Regions from separate parts of the Homo sapiens genome. Here regions 2 and 3 are each linked to region 1. The links come from fine-mapping of genetic effects on gene expression. A gene starts in region 1. Each other region holds a variant in brackets. All regions are shown on one strand. Distances are between the middles of the regions.

Region 1 (4,213 bases):
TTAGATACAGTAAAATACTAAGCTATTTTTCTGTATTTTGTGTCCCCCACGACTACCTCTCCCGGCACCCCTTCCTCCAATCTGATTTAAAGCCAAACCAATTACAGCATGTGTAAAAGGAAAGTAATGGATGATCCCTGCCTAGAATTTTGAGCCTTTTTAAAGTAAATCAGCTAGAGAGAAAAAAAGATAATGCAATCATTAATTTAATTAAAAAGTGTTTATGCTTTTGACCTCCATTATTACGAATTTCAGTTCACCAATAAGTCAATAGTTGTTACGCACTCTGCTTCCTTCTGGATCTTCATTAAGGCTGCTGGCCATGATACTGAGTCGCTATTTCCAGAATTTAAGTGTTTCTTCAGCTATGAGAAGGGAAAAGGAAGTAAAAATGCTTAGGCAGCCTTAGTATATAATATTCTGATTGCCCTGTACAACCACTTAATAGGCTTTTTTCCCCAACGTTTATCGATGAATGTGAGTTTGTTCGGCCCCTGGGACGTAATACAAAACCCTTCTGGGGCAAAGAGGAAGAACGCTTAGGTTCGGAGGCTGTCTCGACCCGCTCTCATTTCGTGCTTTCCTGGAGCGCCCCGCTCCGTCAGCGGAAGCAAAGCCCATCCCTAAGACACGCCTCCTCCTTTCTCCAGGGCCACTCCGGAGCAAGGCCGATTTAGGACGGTCTCCTTTTCTCTGCACGACGCAAAAGTATTTCCCCAGTGGGTCTGGCTTAGAAGAAAACAGAAGGGACTTGGCCACAGTCCCGTTAAGCCGCAACCACAGAGTGTACAGGGTACTGGCGTGCTGAGCCCCAGGCGTGGGGAAAGGAAGGCGGCCTCTCAAGGAACGTTCACCCCCCACTTTTTTGGGGGGTGCGTGGGAGAAGGAAAGAGTCTATTGAAGCCTCCCATTCTCTGTCTCCTACCCTAGGGCGGGTCAGCGAGGACGCAGTCTGTCCTGGGGTCCTATGGGAGGGTGCGGGGAGGCTCGCTCAAAGCCCCAACGTACCCAAGTCACCCTTCACCTGGAAAGGAGTCGGTTGTTTGGAGGTCCCCGCCCCGCGGGGAAGGGCTCCGGATCCGACCCTGGTAGGTGGGGAGCAGCGGACCAGCCCAAACGCGGAGCCAATCCCGCCAAAGCCCTTAATTGCACGCATCTAAGATGGCCGCCCCCGCCCGGTAGCGGGGCGGAAACGAGCCCCTCTAGCTTGCTAGCCGAGCCCACACTCTTTGGCGAAGGCCGCCGAACTTCCGGCAGTAAATTCCGTGGTTTCCCGCCGCCGCCCGCGCATGCGTAACGAAACTGCCCCACGAGTCGGGAAAAGTGGCGCTTGCGCATTAGCCGCAGGGGTGTGTCCTAGTGGCCACTTGGAAAGGGGTGGGCAGCTGGCAAAGGGGCTAGTTAGCGCCTGCGTAGTACTAAGCTCAAGGCAGCGTTTTGAGTTGAAGGGTCTGGCGCGTCTGGAAAGCGCCTGCGTATTCCTTTCACTGGGGGTGGTGTCAAAGCGGGAAGGTGGGCGTGGCTTCAGGGAACGCCTGCGCGTTGCTCCTCCGAAGGGGTGGGGCGATCCCTGAACTGGAGTTAGTGGGCGTGGCCTCAGAGGCGCCTGCGCGGAGGCGGTTGGAGGGAGGCCCGATTCCCCTTTGTTCGGGTTCGCCATTTTGCTAGGCAGCGGCAGTGGCGGCGGCAGCGGCGGCTGGAGCCTCTGATTGGGTTTCGGAGTCCGGTACTGGAGCCAATCAGCGCGGGCAGCGAACCGGGGGAGCGAGGCACGGTGAGTGTGAGGAGCCAATATCCAGCGGCCCAGAGCCGGCCCCAGCGCCCCGATTGGCGGGTCTCGCTGACCACTCAGGAGAGGCCCAGGCGCCCGTCGAGCCCGGGGAGTCGAGCTGAGCCTAGCCGAGCCGGGCGGCCAGCGGCCCCGGCCCGGGGCCTGCGAGCGCCTCGGGGCACTCCCGGCCGAGGCCTGCAGGGGCCGCCCCGCGCGGGGATGGCGCCTCGGGGAGCAGGCACCTCGGGGCTCCGACCCTCGCAGGGTGCCAGGGCCAGTTGGGAATGCGTCCCTGTTCCCCGACTCAGGCCCAGGTTCTCAGGCCCCAGGCCTGGGGCCACGAATGGCCCTACACTAGGGGACACATGCGCGCCCTGGGCCTCGGCGATTTCCTCCTGGTCGTTCTGGCCGCAAACTTAAACCTGCCCTTGCACTCTCCACTCTCCGGCCCTTGGGACAGGAAGCCTCCCCGGGGCCCGCGCCCCCCGCTCCCCGCTCCCAGCGAGCCGGGTCTGTCTTATCTGCAGCCCCTCTAGGTCGGGAGGGAGGCCTGGGGAGGGTGCGCGCCGCGGCCGCGGGGTCCCGTGTGCGGCTGGCAACGGGGCTGGCCCGCCCACGCCTCGGAGCCCTATGGGCCCGCCCCCGCTGTCTCCCTGGTGGGGAGAGGGGGCCGTTAGTTCGCCCACTCCCCCTGCTCCGCCGCGCCCCTCCTCCCAGCCCGCTCCGCCCGGGTCTCCGGCCCGGCGCCGTTACCACCCCTTTTGGCTCGTCATTTCCTCTCTTCCCCGCCCCGTTCGCAGTGGCAGGACCGCACACCTCCGTCTTGGAGCCCAACCAAGCGGTCTCCGTTTCTTGTCCGGGCTGTAAGACCAGTCCATTCGGTGCCTGGAACCTCACTCTTAGAAGATTGATACCCTTGCGCATTCTTTCCGGAGGCTGCACAACTTGCTGTTCATATTACTAATCTTATCCACTGCTCATTTTGTGAAATCTCCCTCCCTTGGGAATATAGTACAGTTTTGGGGGTTTTTTTTCCCTTTGTTTTTGCCTTCGCCTTTCTATGTTACTTTGTGTCAGGCTTGACCCAGTCCACTCATCTCTTGGTTTATGTTTTTCTGATACACTTTCAAGTCCTGTGTTAACGTTTTCTCAGCAGATGTTTAGAAACTAACAGTGTTGTGGGGTTTTCCTTAGGGTGAGAGGTTGCTGTTGGCAACCAATTATCCAGCAGTTAGTATATGCCAGGTATAATCCGTGTGTTAGGGAGGGAGTACGTAGAGGTCAATAAGAACTGTGCCTACCTGATGGAAATTGACAGGTGAACAGGTAGTTAATACCTAACGGTTAGTGCTATAAAGGGGCCAAGTTCAGTTGCTGTGAAGTATCCATGCGTGAGCTAGCCTCCGTGAAAGGCTTATCACCACCGCACTTTTGACTGGCCTTGAAGAATGATGGTAATTCTTCCACAGGAAAGATGGAAGAGCTTGCTCGAAGAGAAGAAAAGCATGTGCAGAGGAATCAAATTACACTGTTGGAGGCAGGAAGATGGGATAGGGAAGTGGGCAGTAGTTGTGATAGTTTAGGGGGGAAAGCCCAGTTGGTAAAATACTTGTATATCTTGCTAAGGAATATTTTGGAAACAGTTATTATTTTGTATGGAGGTTCAAGTAGAAGGGATCTAGAGCTATATTTTTTCCTAAGATTGAAAAAACGAGTTTCTGACTTGTTTATGGGTTCTGCCCCGTGATAGTGGCTGAGTTCTTTGGGGATGAAGAGGAGACTTGTCCTAGGACTCTGAAAATTATTTTTACTCATGTGAATCATCTAGTGCATTCCCTGGCACATAAAGGTCTTAAGTATCTGGTGCCCATTTCTAAATTCACATTTAATGTTATACAACTAATAGGTTTCAGAAAACTCGTATTCCAGTGCTCTTTCATTACTAAAACTTCGGGGACAGGTTTTATTTTCACTTTTTAGGGTGAGTTTTTCATTGTTGCTTAAGTGATTTTCTTAATTCATTTGATTGTCACGTTATCCGCATTAGCAGATGAGATGATAGAGCTTAAGTAGTCTAAAAAACATGTATATTTGCCTTTGGAACGTTTTTTTGTTTGTTTTTGGATACAGGGCTTTCCTCTGTCATCCAGGCTGGAGTACAGTGGCGCAATCGTAGCTCACTAACCTGGAACTCCTGGGCTCAAGCCATCCTCCCTTCTTGTTCTCCCAAAACGTTGGGATTACAGGCATGAGCCACTGCGTCCTGACCTGAAATAGATGTTTTAACCTTAGTATTTAAAAATAGGTATGTTCTGGTCACTTCAAAATCACTAAATACTTTTGCTTGGCATCTTTCTAAAAGGCATTATAATCTGGTAACTTTTTTGCTAAATACCTTACAAGCTTCCACCAGTCTGCAGAAGAATTTCTTTGTCTGACATT
Region 2 (4,213 bases), 26 kb after region 1:
TCTGCCCTTTACTACAGGACAGAAACCACTTAGTTTTTAATAAGTGGCTCAGTATTACAATTGCAGCGATGCCTGGCAAATTGAAGTTGCAAGCCTTTGTCTTACTCTTTCAGTCAGGACCTATTTCAGACTGTTGATGACATTGACATTTCATGGATTCGGATGATGCAAGGAGACACATGCCACCCCAGCAGTACACAAAGCACTTACCTTGACTGGTGAAGTCAGCCAGCCATCTCAGCAGGGAAGAACAACCTTCTCAACCAAAACTGCAATCAGGAAAGCAGCAGCCCACTCCTTCCCATGGAATCTAGACAGCATTTATCCCTCTGGTGGGGGAATCTCACACTGACTAACTGAATGGACGCTTTGTATTCAGAGATGGCTTCCAGGCAAGGAAGTTCTATCTTGTGATACGGAAACAATAAATTCCTGAGATACATTCTTCCAATCTGTGGTAATAATAAGAATTCCTCTCTGCCCAGATGGTAGGTTGATATTTCTGGACTCTAGCCAAGAAAAAGCTAATTCTGGGGATAGAATGATAAAAGACTCAAGCACTAAAAATATACATTGCCGAATCTCTTTTTCTAGCTTTGAAAAGTTGTGGCCTGCTTGTCCCTCTGTTGACTGGTCATCTGGACCATCGTACTTGCTGTGGCTACTTCTAAGACAATGTAGAGGGTTATTAAACCTTGAAACTGCCTTTCCTAAGTAGAGAACAAGACTATTCAACAACTTCTTTGCTGAAGCACTGAGGAGATTTGTAATACTCCTAAAGGAAGGGCCAAACTAGAGATTTTCAATCATAGACTTTGTGACAGCATTTGGGGAACTAAAAGATTCATGTGTTTCAGCCTAGTGGGAGAGAGTGGGGGAGAGGAAGAGAGAGAGAGAGCATGTATACCCGTATGTTATCATAGAGCACGATTCTCCAGTGGATGGATACCTGGAATGGATCATTAAGATGAAGAGAGTAATTCACATTTACTCTAGAACCTTTAACAAGCACTGAAAGGAAGAAGCCTGAGATTTGATCCTTGACAATTTCTGGAAAGCACTGGTCAGTCACACTGTCCTGGACAGAGTCCAAGTTACCCACTAAAGCTTGAGGTGGATGTTGGCTTCACTCCTGCAGCACAATGCTGGCCCTAGAAAGCGAGCATTTTCATTCTTCCCATGGCAGCTGATTCTTTGGTGCCAGTTTTCATGTTTTCTCCATAGGCCTTGTGCAGAAAGGTTTTCTCATTGCATCCATACTGTGAGAATAAACTGCAGACTGAAAGAAACATGCCTGCAGGGTCAGGAACTGGGCCACTGTTCCCAGAACGGGTTGTGCCTCAGAAATCTATTTCTCTTTTAGATGTTGAACCCTGAGAGAACTAAGATGATATTTCAGAAGAGTTGGCTGCCTTCTCTGGAAACAAGGAAAACCCAATAATTCCGAGGAACATTGGGGGTTAAATACCAAGAATAAAAATTGGTTCTTCTTTGACTTCAGCTTAACTGTATTAAGACAGAAATTAAGCCCTCTAAAAACACCACAAAGAGAGATGATTGTAATGATAGAAATAGAGGTACAGAGCTATGCAAAGGAAACAGGAAGTGAAATATTCCTAGTCCCAGGGATCTGGTAATCGCTCCTGG[C/T]TTCCAGATGTCAAAGGACTGATCCTTTGGTAAGCTCACTAGAAACTTCTAGCTCTACAAGAGTTTGGGATATTAATGTTATTCAGTAAGTCCCAAGTTTTTCAGAGAATAGATTACTAACAATGAGGAATTTATATTCCTTGGTTAATTTAGGAGTCTAAGATGCAGAGTTCAGAAAGAAATTACTCAGACCTAACTTTGAGTGCTTAAGCTGCCAACAGTTAGAAGATGCTATTTATTTGTGTCTGTAAGTTTGTACATAGTAATGCCAGCCTTGTTGCTGAATTTTTTATTTGGGGGGAGATGACTTTGAATTTTGTTTGAAATGCTTCAGTTGTCATTTTGTCATTGCATTTCAAATAGCTCATGACCCTTTTCTTGTGGTCACTTTGGCACACCATAGTAGCCCACAAAGTGGGGGCAGGGTATTGACATTTGGATTTTTTCTTTGATACTAGTTCTTTTATTCATTTTTATTTGTGACTGTAGTGATAACTTTACAGATGGAGAAAGAGTGAATGGATGAATGAATAATTGGTTTAATGCCTAGTTATGCAACTTGAGTGCTTTTTTTTTTTTTTGCAGGATAATTTTAAGTGTATATATTTTAACTGCACTGGTACATTGAACATGTCAGTGTCGATGCCACTGGACCAACAGAGCATTTTGTGGCTATAGGGTGCCTGATAATAATGTCTTGATTTTTCTTTGGGATTCAACTATATCGAAGGTTTTTCCCCCAGCAGTATGGGGGCGTACAGGTGATCGATCATTAATGTCATTGCAATTGTTATTTTTTAAAATAAATTTATAAAAATAACCGAAAAGTAATGTGACTTTTGAGGAATCTGCAACTCCTGGGTTCTAGTTTGTGTTTCCAGTGTTGAAATTTTGATCTCCCCCGACAAGACTTGTCTGCATGGACGGTGTCTCTGTAAACAGTATCAAACTTGTAATGTCTGAGCCTCTTAGCTTTATCTCCCCTTAATTTCTTCCCTTTTGGCCCTTCCACCCTGTTGAGGAGATTTTTTCTGTCACCTGCAGGCTGATCATACATTTGATGCTACTACTGAAAGTGTTTATCAAAATGTGATGAAGTAATTCCATGAGGAAAATTAGCCGTTATCACAAAAACAGCCTTAAGTATTGTAGAATTTCAGGTAGTGAAGATGTACTATTTACGTTTTGTTAGATTTTGTTTTGGCAGAAGACCAAAACAAAAGTACTTTTCTGATTGTTAAAAATCCACAGCATGCTCACCTTGTTACTGTTTTACCTTACGGTCGCTGGGAATCTAAGCAACAAAGACTAGAAGCCTCCGATATGCCATTATCAACACACAAGAGACAAACAGCCCGAGGAAGCACTCAATGATGAGAGCAGTAGACCTGCCCTGGCAGATGAGAGAGGAGAAACTCTCCACAATGAAGGAAAAGCACTGACAGTATTTGATAGCTTTAGTCAAACTGTGCTTGAGTTTGGCTTAGATTTATGCCAGTGGAACCTGTCCTTACCAAATTCAGAGATGACCCAAGATTCTACTCTGTGGTATGAGGGAAAGACCTCTCGATATTTATCTCACACCAACGGCTTTATCGTAGGAGCGTCTTCGCCTCCCCCGTTTCCAGTAGAAAAGACAGCTTTGCTCCTTTGAAAGCGCAGACCGCCGCACCTCCAGCCCCTTCTCCCCGGGGAAGTAGGCCCCGCTAAGAATGTGGGAAGGTGGTGGGGCGGCGACTGAAGTCGCTTCCGATTGGCGTTGTCCCAAGGAAGCCTGCGCGGATTGATCGGCGGCAGGCCTCCAATAGAGCCTGCTAGGCGGATTGGCTGCTACGCGGCTGGGCCCTGTTTCCGGTACCTAGGCGGGCAGCCATGGTGACCGGCGAGCGGCATGCGACGCCGCCTCTGTGGCCTGTGGAGGCCCGCTTGGCGGCGCTGCTTCCCGACCTACTGGTCTTTCGGAAGCCTCGGGGATGGGAACCCGAGCTCGCCACGGCCCAGGGCGTCCTCCTAGGCGTCCATGTGACGGGTGAGGGCGACGGCCGGCACTTGCACTTAAGTCTCCTGGCCTGCGGGAGAGGCGGCCGTTGGGTCTAAGCCCCTGGAGGCCTCGACGGTTACAGGCCTAGCCTCCCGCGAGCTAAGGCACAGTTTAACTTCGTGCTGCGGCTTCCTTAGGAAACTTTGAGTATCTTCGTTTTAGCGTGGGAGGACATCTTTTGGGATGAACCGGCTCAGTCCTTGAGCTCACCCCAAAGATGATGAAATTGAAACTCAGAGGAAAGGATTTTTACAGGACCACGCCCCGGGCTTTGAACCCGTTTTTCCCAACCCCGAGCATTTTCTATTAAGCGTTCTGTTTCAATTATTTTATTCGTTCAGTTAATTCGTTCTTGGCGTCATAAGTATATGCCCGCCGTTGTTCTGGCCGTAGCTATCTAGCAGCCACTCCGCGAGTCGTTCATTTAACAAATACTTACTCTGTGTCAGGGATATGAAGATGGGTAATACCAGGTGCCTGTCCTCACTGTGTGAGTGGTTCTCTAGCCAGACATGAGGAGGGATC
Region 3 (4,213 bases), 57 kb after region 1:
ATGATGATTTCCAATTTCATCCATGTCCCTACAAAGGACATTAACTCATCATTTTTATGGCTGCATAGTATTCCATGGTGTATATGTGCCACATTTTCTTTTTTTTTTTTTATTTTTTTTTATTTTTTTATTTTTTTTAATTTTTTTTTTTATTATACTCTAAGTTTTAGTGTACATGTGCACATTGTGCAGGTTAGTTACATATGTATACATGTGCCATGCTGGTGCGCTGCACCCACTAACGTGTCATCTAGCATTAGGTATATCTCCCAATGCTATCCCTCCCCCCTCCCCCGACCCCACCACAGTCCCCAGAGTGTGATATTCCCCTTCCTGTGTCCAAGTGATCTCATTGTTCAATTCCCACCTATGAGTGAGAATATGCGGTGTTTGGTTTTTTGTTCTTGCGATAGTTTACTGAGAATGATGGTTTCCAATTTCATCCATGTCCCTACAAAGGACATGAACTCATCATTTTTTATGGCTGCATAGTATTCCATGGTGTATATGTGCCACATTTTCTTAATCCAGTCTATCATTGTTGGACATTTGGGTTAGTTCCAAGTCTTTGCTATTGTGAATAGTGCCACAATAAACATACATGTGCATGTGTCTTTATAGCAGCATGATTTATAGTCCTTTGGGTATATACCCAGTAATGGGATGGCTGGGTCAAATGGTATTTCTAGTTCTAGATCCCTGAGGAATCGCCACACTGACTTCCACAATGGTTGAACTAGTTTACAGTCCCACCAACAGTGTAAAATGTTCCTATTTCTCCACATCCTCTCCAGCACCTGTTGTTTCCTGACTTTTTAATGATTGCCATTCTAACTGGTGTGAGATGGTATCTCATTGTGGTTTTGATTTGCATTTCTCTGATGGCCAGTGATGGTAAGCATTTTTTCATGTGTTTTTTGGCTGCATAAATATCTTCTTTTGAGAAGTGTCTGTTCATGTCCTTCGCCCACTTTTTGATGGGGTTGTTTGCTTTTTTTCTTGTAAATTTGTTTGAGTTCATTGTAGATTCTGGGTATTAGCCCTTTGTCAGATAAGTAGGTTGCGAAAATTTTCTCCCATTTTGTAGGTTGCCTGTTCATTCTGATGGTAGTTTCTTTTGCTGTGCAGAAGCTCTTTAGTTTAATTAGATCCCATTTGTCAGTTTTGGCTTTTGTTGCCATTGCTTTTGGTGTTTTAGATATGAAGTGCTTGCCCATGCCTATGTCCTGAATGGTAATGCCTAGGTTTTCTTCTAGGGTTTTTATGGTTTTAGGTCTAACATTTAAGTCTTTAATCCATCTTGAATTAATTTTTGTATAAGGTATAAAGAAGGGATCCAGTTTCAGCTTTCTACATGTGGCTAGCCAGTTTTCCCAGCACCATTTATTAAATAGGGAATCCTTTCCCCATTGCTTGTTTTTCTCAGGTTTGTCAAAGATCAGATAGTTGTAGATATGCGGCGTTATTTCTGAGGGCTCTGTTCTGTTCCATTGATCTGTATCTCTGTTTTGGTACCAGTACCTTGCTGTTTTGGTTACTGTAGCCTTGTAGTATAGTTTGAAGTCAGGTAGCGTGATGCCTCCAGCTTTGTTCTTTTGGCTTAGGTTTGACTTGGCAATGCAGGCTCTTTTTTGGTGCCATATGAACTTTAAAGTAGTTTTTTCCAATTCTGTGAAGAAGGTCATTGGTAGCTTGATGGGGATGGCATTGAATCTATAAATTACCTTGGGCAGTATGGCCATTTTCACGACATTGATTCTTCCTACCCATGAGCATGGAATGTTCTTCCATTTGTTTGTATCCTCTTTTATTTCATTGAGTAGTGGTTTGTAGTTCTCCTTGAAGAGGTCCTTCACGTCCCTTGTAAGTTGGATTCCTAGGTATTTTATTCTCTTTGAAGCAATTGTGAATGGGAGTTCACTCATGATTTGGCTCTTTGTCTGTTATTGGTGTATAAGAATGCTTGTGATTTTTGTACATTGATTTTGTATCCTGAGACTTTGCTGAAGTTGCTTATCAGCTTAAGGAGATTTTGGGCTGAGACAATGGGGTTTTCTAGATATACAATCATGTCATCTGCAAACAGGGACAATTTGACTTCCTCTTTTCCTAATTGAATACCCTTTATTTCCTTCTCCTGCCTAATTGCCCTGGCCAGAACTTCCAACACTATGTTGAATAGGAGTGGTGAGAGAGGGCATCCCTGTCTTGTGCCAGTTTTCAAAGGGAATGCTTCCAGTTTTTGCCCATTCAGTATGATATTGGCTGTGGGTTTGTCATAGATAGCTCTTATTATTTTGAGATACGTCCCATCAATACCTAATTTACTGAGAGTTTTTAGCATGA[AG/A]GGTTGTTGAATTTTGTCAAAGGCCTTTTCTGCATCTATTGAGATAATCATGTGGTTTTTGTCTTTGGTTCTGTTTATATGCTGGATTACATTTATTGATTTGTGTATATTGAACCAGCCTTGCATCCCAGGGATGAAGCCCACTTGATCATGGTGGATAAGCTTTTTGATGTGCTGCTGGATTCGGTTTGCCAGTATTTTATTGAGGATTTTTGCATCAATGTTCATCAAGGATAATGGTTGAGAAAAACTTTTTTAAAATACCTTTTTTTTTGAGATGGAGTCTCCCTCTGTCACCCGGGCTGGAGTGCAGTGGCACCATCTCGGCTCACTACAACCTCCACCTCCCAGGTTCAAGCAATTCTCCTGCCTCAGCCTCCCAAGTAGCTAGAATTACAGGCATATGCCACCACGCCTGGCTAATTTTTGTATTTTTCGTATACATGAGGTTTCACCGTGTTGGCCAGGCTGACCTCAAACTCCTGACCTCAGGTGATCCGCCAGCTTCAGCCTCCCAAAGTGCTGGGATTATAGGCGTGAGCCATCACACCCAGCATTTTAATAGCTTTTAAGTGCATTTTATATGTAGCATATTTATTTCCAGCTATAAATTTGTCTTGTTAATTATTTTAGCCCAGATGATATTAAAATGAATATACATTTCCTAACCATGTACCTCCTGGGTCTCTAATGCTTATCAGTGTTCAATGTCCCTACCTGGAGTTCACCAGCCACTCTATATACAGTTTTCCATCCCACTTATCTAACTTGATTTCTTATTGTTTTCAAACAAAAATCTATTCCACATGAACCACTCCCACACTAACCTGTGTGTCTTTGCTCACACAATTCTCCCTTGTTAAATGCTGAGTGACCTCCACATCTCTCTACCTATTAATATGTTGACCATCCTTCAAGGCCCTCCTCAGTCTCCACTTTTTTAGATCATTATAACTCAGAGAGATCTGACTTTTGAGCTCAGCGTGCCTGTGAAAAGTACACTAGATCAGTAGTCAGAGTGGTAAGCTCTAGTTTTGGTTTGGCTTCTCAATAGCTACGAAGCTATATGTAATCTCTCTGAGCCTCAATGACCTAAAAGAGGTAATTTTTGCCTGCCTGAATGACAGGGTTGTTGTAGGATTAGATGATGATATATAAAATAATATTAAAATGTGGTATTAGAAAATTCAAAAATGCTAACAGAAAAAATGTATTATTATTGCTTTGTATCATTTTTATGTTTTATTTAATATTTAGTTGTTATTTAACTATTCAAGTGTGGTATTTCCCCATTTAGATTGAGGTATTTAGATTGGCTTTCAGCTTTTAAAAATTCCTAATAGAGCTTTGCAGTTACAGCTGTAGTCCCTGACTTTTAAAATTTTATGGAGTAATGGAGGAGAAGGATAGGCAAATAATTAATGAATGATACAGGAAGACTTCCTGGAAAAAGTGACTTTGAGACCCGGTAATGCCCCAGTAAAGGTGGCCACTCTCAGTTTTTCATTTTCTTTCCACAAAGAACAGAGGAAGAGTTCCTAGATCAAGTGAAGAGGAAGCTGGCTCAGACCAGCCCTGAGAAAGACCTGTTGACCACAAAGCCTTGTCACTGTAAGGATATCCTGAAGTTAGTGCTCTTACCCCTCACCCAGCATTGCTTGGTCGTTGGAGAAACCACCTGTGCATTTTATTACCTGCTGGAGGCTGCGGCTGCCTGCTTGGACCTGTCAGATAATTATATGGTGAGCAGGCTCTGTAATCTGCCCTTCAGCTGAGCCTTTTACTTTGAGAATGTGATTGAGATCTCTTACAATCATAACCATGAGTGAAAAGTGGAAGAAAGTAGGAGAGAGAGAAGAGCTAGAA

The links. PIP is the estimated chance that this variant, and not a neighbour inherited with it, causes the effect. A credible set is the group of variants that fine-mapping cannot tell apart.
Region 2: its variant is the best candidate, but not a certain one, in a credible set for the expression of NFYA in whole blood (TOPMed, PIP 0.66).
Region 3: its variant is the best candidate, but not a certain one, in a credible set for the expression of NFYA in thyroid (GTEx, PIP 0.56).

What each region holds. Positions count from the first base shown.
Region 1 is chr6:41,071,311-41,075,523 of GRCh38, forward strand. It overlaps NFYA (nuclear transcription factor Y subunit alpha), which reads left to right and starts at 1,664. Exons shown (of 10, transcript NM_002505.5): 1 at 1,664-1,774. It overlaps OARD1 (O-acyl-ADP-ribose deacylase 1), which reads right to left and starts at 1,046. Exons shown (of 6, transcript NM_001329686.2): 1 at 926-1,046; 2 at 286-365. The coding sequence starts at 324. RefSeq lists enhancers at 1,065-1,274, 1,305-1,354 and silencers at 1,735-2,364, 2,395-2,554.
Region 2 is chr6:41,097,503-41,101,715 of GRCh38, forward strand. NFYA (nuclear transcription factor Y subunit alpha) reads left to right here. Exons shown (of 10, transcript NM_002505.5): 10 at 1-4,213. It also overlaps a transcript of OARD1 not described here and the pseudogene ADCY10P1. Among named protein-coding and RNA genes, the nearest start is that of NFYA, 27 kb to the left of the region's middle. The variant C/T (reference allele first, on the strand shown) is at 1,648.
Region 3 is chr6:41,128,425-41,132,637 of GRCh38, forward strand. It overlaps the pseudogene ADCY10P1. Among named protein-coding and RNA genes, the nearest start is that of TREML1, 24 kb to the right of the region's middle. The variant AG/A (reference allele first, on the strand shown) is at 2,347.